2 separate regions of the Homo sapiens genome follow, and region 1 is linked to region 2. The links come from fine-mapping of genetic effects on gene expression. A gene starts in region 2. The other region holds a variant in brackets. All regions are shown on one strand. Distances are between the middles of the regions. Region 1 has its middle 36 kb from the start of XRCC2. Region 2 holds the start of XRCC2 (X-ray repair cross complementing 2).

The links.
Region 1: its variant is fine-mapped to the expression of XRCC2 in whole blood (INTERVAL, PIP above 0.99).

The regions. Positions count from the first base shown.
Region 1 is chr7:152,635,746-152,644,413 of GRCh38, forward strand. No RefSeq gene overlaps it. Among named protein-coding and RNA genes, the nearest start is that of XRCC2, 36 kb to the right of the region's middle. The variant T/C (reference allele first, on the strand shown) is at 4,816.
Region 2 is chr7:152,672,679-152,681,346 of GRCh38, forward strand. XRCC2 (X-ray repair cross complementing 2) reads right to left here and starts at 3,463. Exons shown (of 3, transcript NM_005431.2): 1 at 3,363-3,463. The coding sequence starts at 3,401. RefSeq lists silencers at 2,850-2,939, 3,240-3,709 and an enhancer at 2,940-3,784.

The DNA.
Region 1 (8,668 bases), 37 kb before region 2:
GAAATTAATGAAACTAGGAGTGATGTAAAAATTCTGACAAGTACAAGCATTACTTTTTAAAATTACTTTTTAATTGTGAAAACATTGTGATAAAATACATTAATATTTACCACATTCACCGCTTAGACCTGTACAGCTCAGTGTGTGAAATATAGTCACATCATTTGCAAACAGTTTCCAGCACCATCCCCAGCCCCTGCACCCACCCTTCTGCTTCCTGTCTCTATGAACATGGCTACTCCAGGTACCTCCCACAGGTAGAATCATGGAGCTTTATTTTTGTATTTTAGAAAATGTATGGTGTGGCCGGGTGCGGTAGCTCATGCCTGTAATCCCAGCACTTTGGGAGGCCAAGGTGGGCAGATCAGCTGAGGTCAGGAGTTTGAGACCAGCCTGGGCAACATGGTGAAACCCCATCTCTACCAAAAAACACAAAAATTAGCTGGACGTGGTGATGCATGCCTGTAGTTCCAGCTACTTGGGAGGCTGAGGCAGGAGAATCACTTGATCCTGGGAGGTAGAGGTTGCAGTGAGCCGAGATCACCCCACTGCACTCCAGCCTGGGCGACAGAGTGAGACTCCATCTCAAAAAACAAAACAAAACAAAAAAATGTATGGTGGGTAGCAAACTGCTGTGATATGTAGATTTTAGTGGATATTTTAAATAAATGTTTTATTTTAAAATGTGAATATGCCATAAATTAAATACTTATAAATGAAAGTTTGAATGTTAAGTCAAAACATGTAAGGGGATACATAATTTTCCAAATTTCTTTTAGCGACTACGTTAGTAGAAAAGAAGCTAGTGATCCTAATTCAGACTCTTTGTTTTATCCATGAGATTAAGCAGCTCACACACAGTCACACGTCCGGTGGGTTACGCCACATCAGCAAGCCCTCAAGGCTCCCGACACCCAACAGCTGCTTGCAGTCACAGGTTCTGTTGTCCATACATTGTAGCCATTTATTTTGATTTTCAGTGCACTATTCACATATACCCTTATGTATGAATACTTTTTATAGCCAAGAATCCATAAGTAATACCCTATAATTTATCTCTGGCATAAGTTAGATTTTTATATAGAAGATTTAAATAGACAAACCGGTATTTGGTAATCTGTATTTTGTTTTAAGTAAGATTAAGCGTATCACCCTATAAATCATCATTACCCCAATGTGAGCTTGGAGAGGTAGAAATGACGTGAGAGGTCAGTCAGTCAGAAATACAGAAGAATCAACTTCGGCACAGTAAATTATCCCCAAAAAGCTTTCAGGAAATTCTGAATCATATTTGAAATGTTAAAGGCATGAATTATATGACTATCCATAAATATTTCTGAATCTTTAAAAAAGATCCTTTAAGAAACTTCAAAATAAATGAATGGAATCCAATAATTTAAAACTCAAGTGCTGTTATTTCTACAAGATCTTGGATTATATGTTCATTTGTTCATTGGAAGAAAAATCACATTTTCATTTCTTATATTTTATTTATATTAGAAAGAGCACTTCAATATTAATTCAAATATCTATCCATTAAATGCAAAAATGTTAATGCAATATTAAAAATGAAATTTAAATGAAAGCAAGGGAATATCACATTAAGGTTCCCATGGCAACCCTCACTACACTTCTCAGCTTCTGAATTGTAATATGGTCATTTATTACTGGCTCATATAAAATATAATTTTGCAAATATTTAAAGATGTATAGGTTAATTCGTGTCAATTCAAGCCTTCAGATGCAATATAATATAATACATTAGGCTAAGAATACTCCAAATATTAACCCATATTCATAATTTAGATATATCTATATAAAACAGATGCAAACTTCCTAAATTTTGAATGATTTGTTAGCACTCACATGAATCATACCATTTTGCAGTTCCCATCACAGCTGAAATCTGAGCCTTATGTTACTGAAATACTAATATAGGTATAGTCAAGCGACTGTCTCACTTTAGAAAGAATTTGAAATTACAAATGTCAGATTTTGCCAGAATAGGCAAAATGTAAATTCATTACCTCATATAAATCAAAAGTCCAAGAATTGAGTTTTGCAGATCAAATGATTCTGCCCGAGACCTGTTTATCATTGGCCTCACTTTTTTCTACCTTTAGTGGTACGTATTAACGTGTTGAAAACTCAAAAAAGTAAACATCCTTTAACCAAGAAGTATATCTCTTTATTTATCTAAAGGAAATAATTGGGTAACTGCCAAGCTGTGTCTGTAAGGATTTAGGAAAAAATATAAACAATTGAAATGCCCATCAACAGGAGTGGGTTAAGCAAAGTATGATGTACAGAGCTTTGAAAATGATTGGATCGATATATTGATATGGAAAGATGTCCAAAACCCATTGTTAAGTGAACAAAGCAAATAAAGAACAGTATGTCCAGCAAAGAAAAAACAACAAAAAGCCAAAACACTCCCTCAAGGACAATGTGGGCCACATGCAGTGGCTCACACCTGTAATCCAGCACTTTGGGAGGCCGAGGTGGGAAGATGACTTGAGGTCAGGATTTTGAGACCAGCCTGGGCAAAAAGCGAGACTCTCTCTCTACAAAAAAATTTAAAAAATTAGCCAGGTGTGGTAGTGTGTGCCTGCAGTCACGGCTGCTCGGGAAGCTGAGGTGGGAGGAACACTTGAGCCAAGATTGCGCCATTGCACTCCAGCCTGGGTGACAGACTGAGACCCTATCTCTAAAAAAAAAAAAAAGAACAATGTATAGAGACTCATCTGGAATGATACACTCCAAATGATAATGGTGGAGATCTTTGGATGGTGAGATCACGGCTTTTTATTTTATTTTTCCAAATTTTTTTCAAATGAATATAATCAGAAAATAAAGCTTGAAGACAATATAAGTACTGCCTGCTGTTATGAGTGTGAAAATACTGATACTCTCCTCCTCTGAGGGTAGGAGCATAAGTTGATATAAATATTCTTGCAAATTTTTTTTTTTTTGAGACAGAGTCTCACTCTGTCACCCAAGCTGGAGTGCAGTGGTGCCATCTCAGCTCATTGCGGCCTCCCTGGGTTCAAGTGATTCTTGTGCCTCAATCTCCCAAGTATCTGGAATTACAGGCATGTACCACCATCCCCAGCTAATTTTTGTATTGTCAGTAGAGTCAGGGTTTCACCATGTCAGCCAGGCTGGTCTCGAACTCCTGACCTCAAGTGATCCGCCTGCCTTGGCCTCCCAAAGTGCTGGGATTACAGGCGTGAGCCACTGCGCCCAGCTGATTTTTTTTTTTTTTTTTTTAATCAGACAAGATCTCACTCTGTTACCCAGGCTTGAGTGCAGCAGCCTGATCATGACTCCCTGCAGTCTTGACTTCCCAGGCTCAAGCGATCCTCCCCTCTGAGCCTCCCGAGTAGCTGGGACCACAGGCATGCACCACCATACCTGGGTAATTTTTAAATTTTTGTAGAGGCCAGGCGCAGTGGCTCATGCCTGTGATTCCAGCACTTTGGGAGGCCAAGGTGGGTGGATCACCGGAGGTCAGGAGTTGGAGACCAGCCTGGCCAACATAGTGAAACCCCACCTCTACTAAAAATACAGAAATTAGCTGGGCGTGGCGGCTTGTGCCTGTAGTCCCAGCTACTCAGGAGGCTAAGGCAGGAGAATCTCTTGAACCTGGGAGGCAGAGGTTGCAGTGAGCTGAGATCGGGCCACTGCACTCCAGCCTGGGTGACAGAGCGAGACTCTATTTCAAAAATAAATAAATAAATAAATAAATAAATAAATAAATAATTTTTTTGTAGAGATGGGGGTCTCACTATATTGCTCAGGCTGGTCTTGAACTCCTGGACTCAAGCATCCTCCTGCCTTGGCCTCCCAAAGTGCTAGGATTACAGGCGTGAGCCACTGTGCCCAGTTTGGGATGTTCGATAACATTAAAAAATTGCAGAAAAATTGTATAATTCTTGTAAACTTTTTAAATTTTTTTACTTCTATAATTCTATTTTCAAAAAACAAACAAATTGAAAGCCACTCAAATATTTCAAGAGTGATTAAATAATTACATATTTATTCCATAAGAGGAAATACGATGTACTCATTAAAAATCATAAAATATTTCTGTGGGTCAATACCATTGCAATTCCGTCAAATCAAGATGATTTTAACTACAAGGAATAGAAAATGCAGTCAGCTTAAATGATAAAACTTCTGGATAAACACTGCAGTTGAACATGCTTGTTAACCAGTAATTCCTCCTGAAACCTACTAAAATCACAGGAAAGGGGAAAAAAGCATAAACCCATAAAGACAAAAAAAAAGAAAAAAGGAGGGAAGACAATAGCAATTCCCCCTCTTTTTAAAATAGGGTGGTTTCCAGAACCAGAATAGGCTCATCGGCTCAGAGTTTCCCTCATTCCAATTAAAAAAATTTTTAAAAATTGTTTATTTTCTGTATTTTGTTGAAACATTCCAATATTTATTTATTTATTTATTCTGAGACAGAGTCTCGCATGTTGCCCCAGCTGGAGTGCAGTGGCACAAGCTCAGCTCACCGCAACCTCTTTCTCCTGGGTTCAAGCGATTCTCCTGCCTCAGCCTCCTGAGTAGCTGGGATTACAGGTGTCCACTACCACGCCCGGCTAATTTTTTGTATTTGTAGTAGAGACGGGGTTTCACTATATTGGCCAGGCTGGTCTCAAACTGCTGACCAAAGTACTGGGATTACAGGCGTGAACCACCGACCCTGGCTGAAACATTCCAATAGTTAAAGCTGGTAAAGTTGGGTAGGTCTGTGGACATAACAGAGCAGATGCTGTGAAAGCAAAGCAGAGAACTGGGCGTACT[T/C]GGAAGCGGAAGTGCGGTGGGACCGAAAGGGAGAAGGTGGACGCGTCTAAGAAACCAAAGTCTACTTTCCCTCCCACATCCAACCATGAAGCTTTTTACAAAATGTGGAGGCCAGAACACCCTATTTGTATGTGTGTGTATGTTATGATTATTGTAATATGTGATGAGTTATGAGGAATATTAAAAAAAGAACTCGATGAACTGACTGGAACATTCCCAAATAGCACGCTGCTGGTCCCCTGCTTTTCTTCTAATTTTAGCATATATTGTTTAGTTTTGTTTTTGAACCTTATTTTAAAAGGCATCTCCACACGAAGACTTGTAAATTGATATTCATTGCAGCATTAATCAAAATAGCCCCAAATTGGAGACAATCCAAATATCCATCCATTGACGTTGGATTTTTAAAAAGTGTCATATTTGTGCAATGGAATATTATACAGCTATAAGGACTAAACTGGCTGGGTGCGGTGACTCACTCCTGTAATCCCAGCACTTTGGAAGGCTGAGGTGTGTGGATCACTTGAGCCCAGGAGTTCAAGACCAGCCTCCGTAACGTGGCAAAACCCCATCTCTGCAAAAAATACAAAAATTAGCTAGGTGTGGAGGCACATGCCTGTAATTTCCAGCTACTCAGGAGGCCGAGAGGCAGGAGAATTGCTTAAGCCCAGGAGGCGGAGGTTGTGGTGAGCTGAGATAGCACCATTGCACTTCAGCCTGGGTGACAGAGTGAGACCCTGTCTCAAAAAAAAAAAAAAAAAAAAAAAAAAGGAATAAACTATTGACATATATTATGACATGGATGAATCTTGAAAACATACTAAGTGAAAGAAGACTCGGACCACAGAGTATATGATTGTATGTATTTGAAATGTCCATAGCAGGCAAATGCAGACAGAAAACAGTTTAGGATATTACCAGGAGCTGGGGAAGAGAAGGGCATGAGGAATGACTACTAAGTGGTATGGGGTTTCTTTTCTTTCTGGGGTGATGACAATGTTCTAAAATTAAATGGTCGCAGAACTTGGAGTTGACTAAAACCACCAAATAGTATACTTTAATAGAGCAAATCGTATAGTATGTGAGTTATGTCTTTTTTTTTTTTTTTTTTTGAGATGAAGTCTTGCTCTTGTCCCCAAGGCTGGAGTGTGGTGGCGCGATCTCAGCTCACTGCAACCTCTGCCTTCCAGGTTCAAGTTATTCTCCTGCCTCAGCCTCCCGAGTAGCTGGGATTACAGGTATGCACCACCATGCCCACCTAATTTTGTATTTTTACTAGAGATGGAGTTTCACCATATTGGTCAGGCTGGTCTCAAACTCGTGACCTCAGGCAATCCACCCACCTTGGCCTCCCAAAGTGCTGGGATTACAGGCATGAGCCACGGTGCCTGGCCGAAGGTATTATTTTAAAAGGTATTATATTGAAGGTATTCCTTTGTAATGTTCTTTAAGAAAAAGCAGACTCCACCCTCAGTCCCTTCCTCTCCCTGCCCAACCCCACCCCTTCCTTAGCCTCTGAAAAAAAAGAAAAAGTAAAAAAAAAAAAAAAAAAAAGAGAAAATTCGGGATTACGTTTGTATGATTTATTTCCTGTTTATGCATCCGACAGTAGTGCATTCATTTTTAATGCTGTCGGGTGCTTCCTTGTATGAATATGCCACCATTTGTTTATCCATTCTGTTGTGAATGGATGTTTGAGTTGATTCTGGCTTTTGTTGTTATGAATAATGCTAATATAAATATATTTATACATCTTTCCTGACACACATGAGCAAGAATCTCTCAAGGATATATGCCACGTTGAAGGGTATTATGTGTATTTAACTTTGAAAAATAATGCCAAACCAGGCGTGGTGGCTCATGCCTGTAATCCCAGCACTTTGGGAGGTCGAGGCAGGCGGATTACAAGGTCAAGAGATCGAGACCATCCTGGCCAACATGGTGAAACCCCATCTCTACTAAAAATACAAAAATTTGCTGGGTGTGGTGGCAGGTGCCTGTAATCCCAGTTACTCAGGAGGCTGAGGCAGGAAAATCGCTTGAACCCGGGAGGCGGAGGTTGCGGTGAGCCGAGATCACGCCACTGCACTCCAGCCTGGCGTCAGAGCGAGACTCTGTCTCAAAAGAAAAAAAAAAAGAAAGAAAAATAATGCCAAGTTCGTTTTCCAGGTGCTTGCACTTCTTTGGTTTGACTTTGCCAGCAGCACAGAGTTGGCATTATTTGTTGCACATCTTCTTCGCGACTCGGTAATGTCAGCCTTTAAATTTCTGTCATCCAAGTGTGCGTGAAATGACACCTTACTGAACTCTTAATTTGTATTTGCAATTACCAATGAGATTGAACATCATTTCATGTTTTTTGACCAGTCCTGTTTCTTTTCTGTGAAATGCCCCTGAATATCCTTTGCCCATTTTTCTACTTATTTTGTCTTGATTTATGTATACGTACATATTTGTGTGCACATATATACACACTTATGAGTATACACACTACATTTTGGTTTTAATATTAAACGTGTTGTTCGCATGGGTTGCAAATATACTCTGTTTGTAGCTTCTCTTTTTGCTTTGTTGATGGAATCTTTGATGAGTAAAAATTATAAGTACTGATGTAATACAGTTTTCAGTTGCATCTTTTTCCATCATGTATCATCCATCCTTGTTACAAGGATTTGAATAGTCCATCCTTTCCACAATGATTTGCTGCTTCTGAAATATGCTAAAGTCCATACGTGTGGGTTTGTTCTGAAGCTCTATATTCTGTTCTACTTGTGTATCCTTTTACCAATAGCATACTCTCACTTTAGCGACAATTTTTTTTTTTTTTTGAGACGGAGTCTTGCTCTGTCGCCCAGGCTGGAGTGCAGTGGTGTGATCTCGGCTTAGTGCAACTTCCGCCTCCCGGGTTCAAGCAATTCTCCTGCCTCAGCCTCCGTAGTAGCTGGGACTACAGGCGTGCGCCACCATGCCCAGCTAATTTTTGTATTTTTAGTAGAGACGGGGGTTTCACTATGTTGGCCAGAATGGTCTTGATCTCTTGACCTCGTGATCCGCCCACCTTGGCATCCCAAAGTGCTGGGATTACAGGCCTGAGCCACCATGCCTGGCCTTAACTACATATCCTTACATCGAATAGGGTAAGTTCCCCTACATCAGCCTCCTTTAAGAACACTTAGCAGCCAGGCTGGGTGCAATGGCTCACACCTGTAATCCCAGCACTTTGGGAGGCCGAGGCAGGCAGATCACTTGTGGTCAGGAGTTCAAGACCATCCTGGCTAACATGGTGAAACCCCGTCTCTAGTAAAAATACAAAAATTAGCCGGGCGTGCTGGCATGCGTCTGTAATCGCAGCTACTCGGGAGGCTGAGGCAGGAGAATTGCTTGAACCCAGGAGGCAGAGGTTGCAGTGAGCTGAGATCGTGCCATTGCACTCCAGCCTGGGCGAAGAAGCAAGCCTCTGGAAGAAAGAAAGAGAGAGAGAGAGAGAGAAGAAAGAACACTTAGCTCGGATCTCCCTTTGAAAGTGAGTTATCTGACAGCGTCCAGCTAAAGTGCCTTTTGCTCTGCCACAGTATATGAGCTGAGGTCATGTGCTCCTCATGAATACTTCTGCCCAGTGAGGGTGTCCTCCAGACAATCTTTGCATAGGAGTTCCCTGGTGGACAGGCCAAGACTTTCTTTGAGCTGTGCTGTCAGTCTGAAGTTCTTCCTCCCAATTCTTCCTGCCTCCTTCCTTCCACCGGTGTCAGGCCCTAAGGTTTTCCCTGCCTCATTCTGCCCCCTCTTGTCTTTCACCTCTTATGCTCCTGACATCATTTTTGCAGCTGCCTCCTGGCGGACCTGAGCGGATACA
Region 2 (8,668 bases):
GGGCTATCCTTGGGTAATGATAATGGGAGTGGAGACATTTCCTACTTTTCACTTCAGTGCTATTGGAATTTTCTGCCATGTACATGAACTGCTTTAATAATAAATATAATGGAGTTAGTTTTTTAAAGAAAAAAAACATGGTATGCTGTGCATAGCAACCAAAACTGGACAGACACTTCCAATTTTTTATTTACCAATTATTTTAAAATTCAAGGCATATTAGCATTCTTGAAAAAATGCAAAGTACACCATTATTTAACAACTGTATTCAAATGAAGCCATTTGGTGGATGATACCAAAATACTGCCCAAATCACTGGATCTTTTCTCACAATCTCAGTGAGATATAAAAGTAAAAATCCTATTGCTACTGTGCAAAGGGAAAAATGGATTGTTCTATTGTAAACTGTAGTCAAATGCTTGTCTTTTTTAAATCAAGGGCACATATGTTTTCCACTCTCCACCTGGCTTACCATAAACTTCATCCCTAGAATCTGCTAAAAAAATATATATTCTTTTTTTTGAGACAGAGTTTTGCTCTGTCACCCAGGCTGGAGTGCAGTGGCGTGATGTCGGCTCACTGAAACCCCCGCCTCCCGGGTTCAAGCAGTTCTCTTCCTTCACCCTCCCAAGTAGCTGGGATTACAGGCGCCCACCACCACACCCAGCTAATTTTTTTTATTTTTAGTAGAGACAGGGTTTCTCTCTAACTCCTGACCTCAGGTGATCTGCCCACCTCAACCTCCCAAAGTGTTGGGATTACGGGCATGAGCCACTGCACCCAGCCTAAAAAAATATTCTTACAACTTTATTTTCTTGAAGACCCCCATATGAAATGTCTTTTCCTTGATACTCACAAGAAAGATTAACTATTTTATTAGGTTCTAATTCTAGTGAATTTTAAAGCAGGCCAGGCGTGGTGGCTCATGCCTGTAATCCCAGCACTTTGGGAGGCTTAGGCAGGCGGATCATGAGGTCAGGAGTTTAAGACCAGCCTGGCCAACATAGTGAAACCCGGTCTCTGCTAAAAAATAAAAATAAAAAATAAATTAGCCGGGCATGGTGGCGTGCACCTGTAGTCCCAGCTACTCGGGAGGCTGAGGCAGGAGAATTGCTGGAACCCGGGAGGCAGAGGTTACAGTGAGCCAAGATCGCGCCACTGCACTCCAGCCTGGGCGACAGAGTGAGACTCTTGTCTCAAAAAAAACCAAAAATTTAAAGTAGTTTATTTCAGTTTCTTGGGTTAGCTTATGGCTTCAGATATATTCCTCAACACAATCCCTCCAAGTAAATTCAAAGTAGATGAATGTGCAAAGAAGCTAGAGTTCAAACAAATTTGGCAGTGGCCACATAGTTCCCAAGACACTTAAAGGGAAAGAGACTGGCTTAACTGGTTTTGTTAATAAAAAGGAAAATAGAGCAGCGCCAATTGCCTAGCTTCCTATTCACCATTCCACCCCACTCCACTCCAGAGTAGTATGAGCTAGGCTTAGGATTGCCACACAGACAAGGCAGGCAAAGGATATGATGTTAAATTCTTTGTTCCATGACTTAACTGTGCTAGACTCTCATTTTTTGGATACAAGGCTTGTTCTGATTGCAAAAATCATCGGACCTTAACCTGGGTTTCAAATAATCATTTAAATATAAGGTTTTGGCCGGGCGCAGTGGCTCACACCTGTAATCCCAGCACTCTGGGAGGCTGAGGCGGATCACCTGAGGTCAGGAGTTCGAAACTAGCCTCGCCAACACGGCGAAACCCTGTCTCTACTAAAAATACAAAAGTTAGCTGGGTGTGGTGGCGTGTGCCTGTAATCCCAGCTACTTGGGAGGCTGAGGCAGGACAATCGCTTGAACCCGGGAGGCGGAAGTTGCAGTGAGCTGAGATGGCACCATTGCACTCCAGCCTGGGCAACAGAGCGAGAGTTCATCTCAAAAAAATATATATTTATATATAAAAAATATGTTTATATGTATTATATACTTTCTATATAATCTATATTATAAATATATTTTTAAATATATATTTATATAATATATTTTTAAATATATATTATATATAAATATATTTTTAAATATATATTATATATAAATATATTTTTAAATATATATATATCTATGGTTTATAACTGTAGCCGTTCTTATACTAAGCAGTGGTTCTACTCTTTAGGAACAGGGATTATCAAACTATGGCCAGCAGGCTAAATCCAAAAAACAAAGCTTTATTGGAACGCTGCCATGTGCCTTTATTTATCTATGACTGCCTTCCCATTAGAACAGCAGAGTTGAGTGGCTGTGACAGAAACGGCATGGCCTGCAAAGCCTAAATATTTACCACATGGCCCTCCACAAAAATGTTTGCTGACTCTTTTGAGATTGCTTCCTCTCTCATCTGCATAAAAGATCCTTCATACCCTGCCCACTGCTCAGCGCTTACTTCCCAACCTATTGTCCCTCACTCCCTTTGTTCCAATTTTACAGAAATACTTGCAGTTATCTAAATTAGCCATGCTCTTGCTTAATTCAGAATCCATGTACTCCCGACTGTCTCCGCTCTGAATGTCATCCTCTCCTTGCCAAACCATTTCAAATGGTCCTTGAAACTTCAGTCATCTCCTCCTGCATCTTCCATGATGCCCGCCCCTCTAATGGACAACAAACTTTTGTGCAATACTGTAATTCTTACAGCAGCCTCCCTTACTAGTTCTTTAATGGCAGAAGTTATGTCTTTTGTTGCTTACTCCTATCCCTTAACACGTAGTTGACACACAGTAAGTGCTGGACACTTGGTTCAATTCTTGAGGGGCATCCACCGGCTTGTGTGGCTCTGGAGCTACCTGGGCTGGAAACGAATACTAGGGGGTGGCGAGGGCCAGCTGCCCTAAGCAGAGACACGTGGGCTACAGGGAGGTGAGGCAACCTCCGCAAACACCACCTGTTCCAGAAAAGCTCCAAATGCTCCAACGGGCGACCCCTCCCCTTTTCTAGCTTTTCTTGCATAGCTTGACATTTCCAACGGTAGTTAATTTGTGAGGGGTTTTTAGACCATAACTCTTGGGAGGAGAGACCTCGTATGTTATATCGATCTGGGCAGGCAGCAAGTCTTCCAAAGAAAGACTTCCTCCACCTCCGCCCGGTCCTCCCACCTCGGAGGACTCCAGGCTGCCCAGGGGCGGACCCCTGGGGCCCAGGTGAGAGGTGGCAGAGGGTGCCAGCATCGCGGGCGTCTAGGCCGAGAGGCCGGTCCCAGCCCGGCCAGGCCGCGCCGCCCCAAGCCTCCCAATCCCCCGGGTTCCCTCGGCTCCCCTCGCCCACCGGCGGCCTTGTTCCCATCTCCCTCACTCCCAACCCGGCGGCTCTCACCTCGGTCCCAGACTCAGCCCTATGGAAGGCACTACACATCGCCCCGAAGGCTCGGCGCAGGAGAGACTCAACTTTCCCGCCACCAACGCCATTCACCAACTGCGCAGACTCTACGGCCAGTCAAACCCGCCCACCCGCGCGCGTGCGCACTGCGCCAGGCCGCGGCCGGGGAGGCGGGAGCATGCGCAATAGGGTGTGCGGGCCTCCCCGCCCCGCCCCCAGTTCCTGTGACGTCAGACTTCCGCGTCCCCCGCGGCGCTCTCCCGCGTCCCCTTGGAGATCGCTCCGGGGTGGCGGGGACAGCTGGTGCTTTTCTTGTCTGTTGTAAACTTTGGTTCGTTATTATTATATTAGGTAAAGCTGGTCTTATGTATTAATTTGTTTAACCATTAAAAATAATTGTATTGCACAAGCAGGCCCCTTTGTCCGTTCTCGGGTTAAAAGCCTCTGGCTGTGTGTGCGATTCATGGTTAATTCTGGAAAAAAAGAGAAAAGTATACTGTATTTAAAAGAATTTTTAAAATATACCGAGCCTGTGGATTTATCAAGTTGCTTTTTGAGGTAGGCAGGAGGATCACTGGAAGTCGGGAGTTCGAGACCAGCCTGGCCAAAATGGTGAAACCCCGTCTACAGTAAAAATACAAAAATTAGCCAGGTGTGGTGGCGCATGCCTGTAATCCCAGCTACTCAGGGAGGCTGAGGCAGGAGAATCGCTTGAACCAGGGAGGCAGAGGTTGCAGTGAGCCGAGATCGCGCCATCACACCTGAGCGGCAGAGCGAGACTCTGTCTCAAAAAAAAAAAAAGACAAAAATTTGGATATAGTAGCATTGGCCATTATTATCAAGATGACAAAATGTTTTCTGGAATGAAAAAGTTTCATGCAAAGATATACTTTTCACCCACCTAGTTTAGTTTTCAAAAACGCTAGGAAAGAGCATATACCAATGAAGTATTTCTCATGGGTAATATTAAAGTTGCTCATTTTGTAAATTGGAATGGTTTTGGTTCCAAGTCACAGAAAACCCAACTCTTACGTCCTGAAACAAATGGGCTTTACCGGGTGACATCACTAGAAGTCCAAAGGTAAGACAGGCTTCAAGGTTAGTTTAATTGAGAGGCTTGATGAGGCAAACAAGTACCTCATTTCTTTTTACCTCAGATTCATGTTTTCTACCTTGGCCTCTTCTCTACGTAGGGCTGCGGGCCCGTATCTGAAACATTAACAACCATCAGGAATGAGGTTGGTCTGGTTAGCTTAGGCCTGAATCGTGTGCCCCACTTACTTTTCTTTTTTTCTTTTTTTTTTTTTTTTTGGAGACGGAGTCTCATTGCACTCTCGCCCAGGCTGGAGTGCAGTGGTACCATCTCGGCTCACTGCAACCTCTGCCTCCCGGGTTCAAGTGATTCTTCTGCCTCAGCCTCCCAAGTATCTGGGACTACAGGCACGTGCCACCACGCCAGGCTAATTTTTGTATTTTTAGTAGAGATGGGGTTTCACCATATTGGCCAGGCTGATCTCGAACTCCTGACCTTGTGATCTGCCTGCCTCGGCCTCCCAAAGTGCTGGGATTACAGGCGTGAGCCACCGCGCCTGGCCCTGTGTGCCCCACTTCTATCCGGAGTAGAGACATATTTTTTCAAAGCACACAGGCCTTGTGGAAAGGTGTGGAGAACAGTAAATGACAACAATAACAACAAATTGTGAATCATTAACAAGAGGAGTGGGAGTGGATGCTTGGGAGGCCACCTCTACCGTCTTTTTTTTTTCTTTTTTCCCTTTCCTATGGTGCTGAACCACCTATATCTTCATTACACCCTCTGTAATGAGGATATGTGTATACCAAACCACATGTGTAGGTCAACCCCCTCGTCCAATTCCACACACTTCTATACAAAGTAAATATTTCCTCACATAGTAAATCAATATTTGAGAAAGGAGACTTTACAATTAAATAGCTGCTCTAGGCTAAATTAGTTTTTCAGTCTCCACACTGTTCCTAATGAAGAAGACATGTCAGCTGAACTAGTTTAGTCCATTAAGTGCACACCTGTTCGTGTGAGTGCAACATGGTTTTGAAATCACTTCAGTTTTAATGCTCCGGAAACATCACTTCTCGTTTAAAAGGATACTTGAAGCGCTCTCACAAACTGCTGGTAGGCATGAAAACATACGGTCTTTTTGGAAAGGAATTTGGCAATATCTTTTTTTTTTTTTTTTTAATTAATAGAGATGGGGTTTCGCCATGTTGCCTAGGCTGGTTTACAACTCCTGGGCTCAAGTGATCCTCCTGCCTCCTAAAGTGCTGGGATTACAGGCATGAGCCACTGCACCTGGCCGATTTTGGCACTATCTAACAAAATGACGCATTTATTAACTTTTTCACTCAGCAATCCTACTTCTAAGAATTTAGCTTGAAGTCATACTTCCAACATTGCAAAAACGTGTATGCAAAAAAAGCATATTGCAGCATGGTTTGTAATTGCAAAATCTTGGAAATGGCCTAAATGTTTATACATAGGAGAGTGGTTGAAAACAATACGGCACTGCCACAAAATGGAGCACTATGCAGCTGCAACAAAGAATGGCCAAGATCTCTATGCATCTGTAAGGAATGATTTCCAGGATATAGTGTTAAGTGAAAAAGGCAAAGAGGAAGGGGTGTCTACAGTTTGCTAGCTTTCTTGTAACAAGGGAGGGGAAAGAAAAAGATACACATGTCTCTGCTCATTTGGGTAAAAAGAAACACAGGAAGAATACATGAGAAGCAAAGAGGATTCTTTATCTACGGAGGGTAGATAAAAATAGGTTGGAAAAAATGGAGGATGAAAATAGGGTAAAAGAGATGGGGTGAGGGACACTTCCCTATGTGTAACTTTTTTTGATAGCTCCAATTTTTTTTTTCTTTTTTTTCTGAGACAGAGTCTTGTTCTGTCACCCAGGCTGGAGTGCAATGGCAGAATCCTGGCTCACTGCAACCTCTGTCTCTGGGTTCAAGTGATTCTCATGCCTCAGCCTCCTCAGTAGCTGGGATTACAGGCACCTGCCACCACGCCTGGCTAATTGTATTTTTGGTAGAGATGGGGTTTCACCATGTTGGTCAGGTTGGTCTGGAACTCATGACCTCAGGTGATCCACCAACCTCGCCATCCCCAAAGTGCCAAGATTACAGGTATGAGCCACCATGACTGGCCAGCTCTAACTTTTAGAAACACATGATGTTTTACCTCCTAAAAAAGAAATCATCAGTGGCTTACGCCTGTAATCCCAGCACTTTGGGAGGCTGAGGCTGGTAGATCACCTGAGGTCAGGAGTTTGAGACTAGCCTGGCAAACATGACAAAATCCTGCCTCTACTAAAAATATAGAAATTAACCGGGTGTGGTGGTGCATGACTGTAATACCAGCTACTCGGGAGGCTGAGACAGGAGAATTGCTTGAACAGGGAGGTGGAGGTTGCAGTGAGCTGAGATCATGCCATTGCACTCCAGCCTGCACAACAGAGTGAGACTCTGTCTCAAAAAAGAAAAAAACAAAACAAAAGCAAGATCATGTCCTTTGCAGGAACATGGACGGAGCTGGAGACCACTATCCTTAGCAAAAAAACGCAAGAACAGAAAACCAAATACCACATGTTGTCACTTATAATTGGGAGCTAAATGATGAGAACTCATGCACGAAAAGAAAGGAACAACACACACTGAGGCCTACTTCAGACTGGAGGGTGGGAGGAGGGAGAGGAGCAGAAAAAATAACTACTGGGTACTAGGCTTAGTACCTGGGTGACGAAGTAATTCCTACAACAAACCCCCATGACATGAGTTTACCTGTATAACAAACCTGCACACGTACCCCTGAACCTAAAATTAAAATGTTTAAAAATTGCCACAGTAGGCCGGGCACAGTGGCTCATGCCTATGGCGCCACTACACTCCAGCCTGGTGACAGAGTGAGACTGTCTAAAAAAAAAAAAAAAAAGAAAAAAAGAAAAACAAATTGCCACAGTAATAGTTTGGAAGAGGAGATTAAGAGTAATCAATTGATACTAAAATTACTGGATAAAAGTATAATTAAAGACAGACTATAGCCTAAAGTATCTCCCTACAAGATACTTGTTAATTACAAAGAAAAGAGTGACCCTGCCATGGAGAAACTTTTTTTTTTTTAAATTGAGACAGAGTTTCGCTCTGTCGCCCAGGCTGGAGTGCAGTGGCGCGATGCAACCTCCACCTCCCGGGTTCAAGAGGTTCTTTTACCTCAGCCTCCCGAGTAGCTGGGACAACAGTCGTGCAACACCACGCCTGGCTAATTTTTGTATTTTTAGTAGCAACCAAGTTTCACCATATTGTCCAGGCTGGTCTTGAATTCCTGACCTCATGATCTGCCCGCCTTGGCCTCCCAAAGTGCTGGAATTACAGGCGTGAGCCACCGTGCTCGGCCGCCCAGCTAATTTTTTTGTATTTTTAGTAGAGACGGGATTTCACCATGTTGGCCAGACTGGTCTTGAACTCCTGACTTCAGGTGATCCACCCACCTCAGCCTCCCAAAGTGCTGGGGTTACAGGTGTGAGGCACCATGCCCTGCACCATGGAGAAACCTATTAAACATCACCTTAACCAAGTGATCCAACTTAACATCACCTGTAATGAGAAAAATAGGTATCACGTGCCTCCTAATACAGTGCACTGGGAAGAACACAGCATCCTTTCTGTGGTATTCCCACCGAAAATGCATAACCCAAATCTAATCATGCACAAACATTACACAAACCCAAACTGAGGTACATTATATTCTAGAATATAACCAACCAGTATTATTTTAAAAATCTAGATTAAAAAAACGAAAACAAAAACGTGGCTGGGCACAGTGGCTCCCGCCTGTAAGACCAGCACTTTGAGAGACTGAGATGGGTGGATCACCTGTTGTCAGGAGTTCAAGACCAGCCTGGCCAACATGGTGAAACCCCGTCTCTACTAAAAATACAAACATTAGCCAGGCATGGTGGCAGGTGCCTGTAATCCCAGCTACTCCACAGGCTGAGACAGGAGAATCGCTTGACCCTGGGAGATGGAGGTTGCAGTGAGCAGAGATTATGACACTGCACTCCACCCTGTGCAACACAGTGAGATTCCATCTCAAACAAAAGACTGAGGAACTATTCCAGATTAAGGGTGACTAAAGAGGCATGACACCTATATATTAATATAATGTGTGATCCTGAACTGGATTCTGAACCAGAAAAATACATTAGTGAGACAGTTGGTAAAAGCTGAATATGTCTGTTATTTATTTATTTATTTTCTGGAGA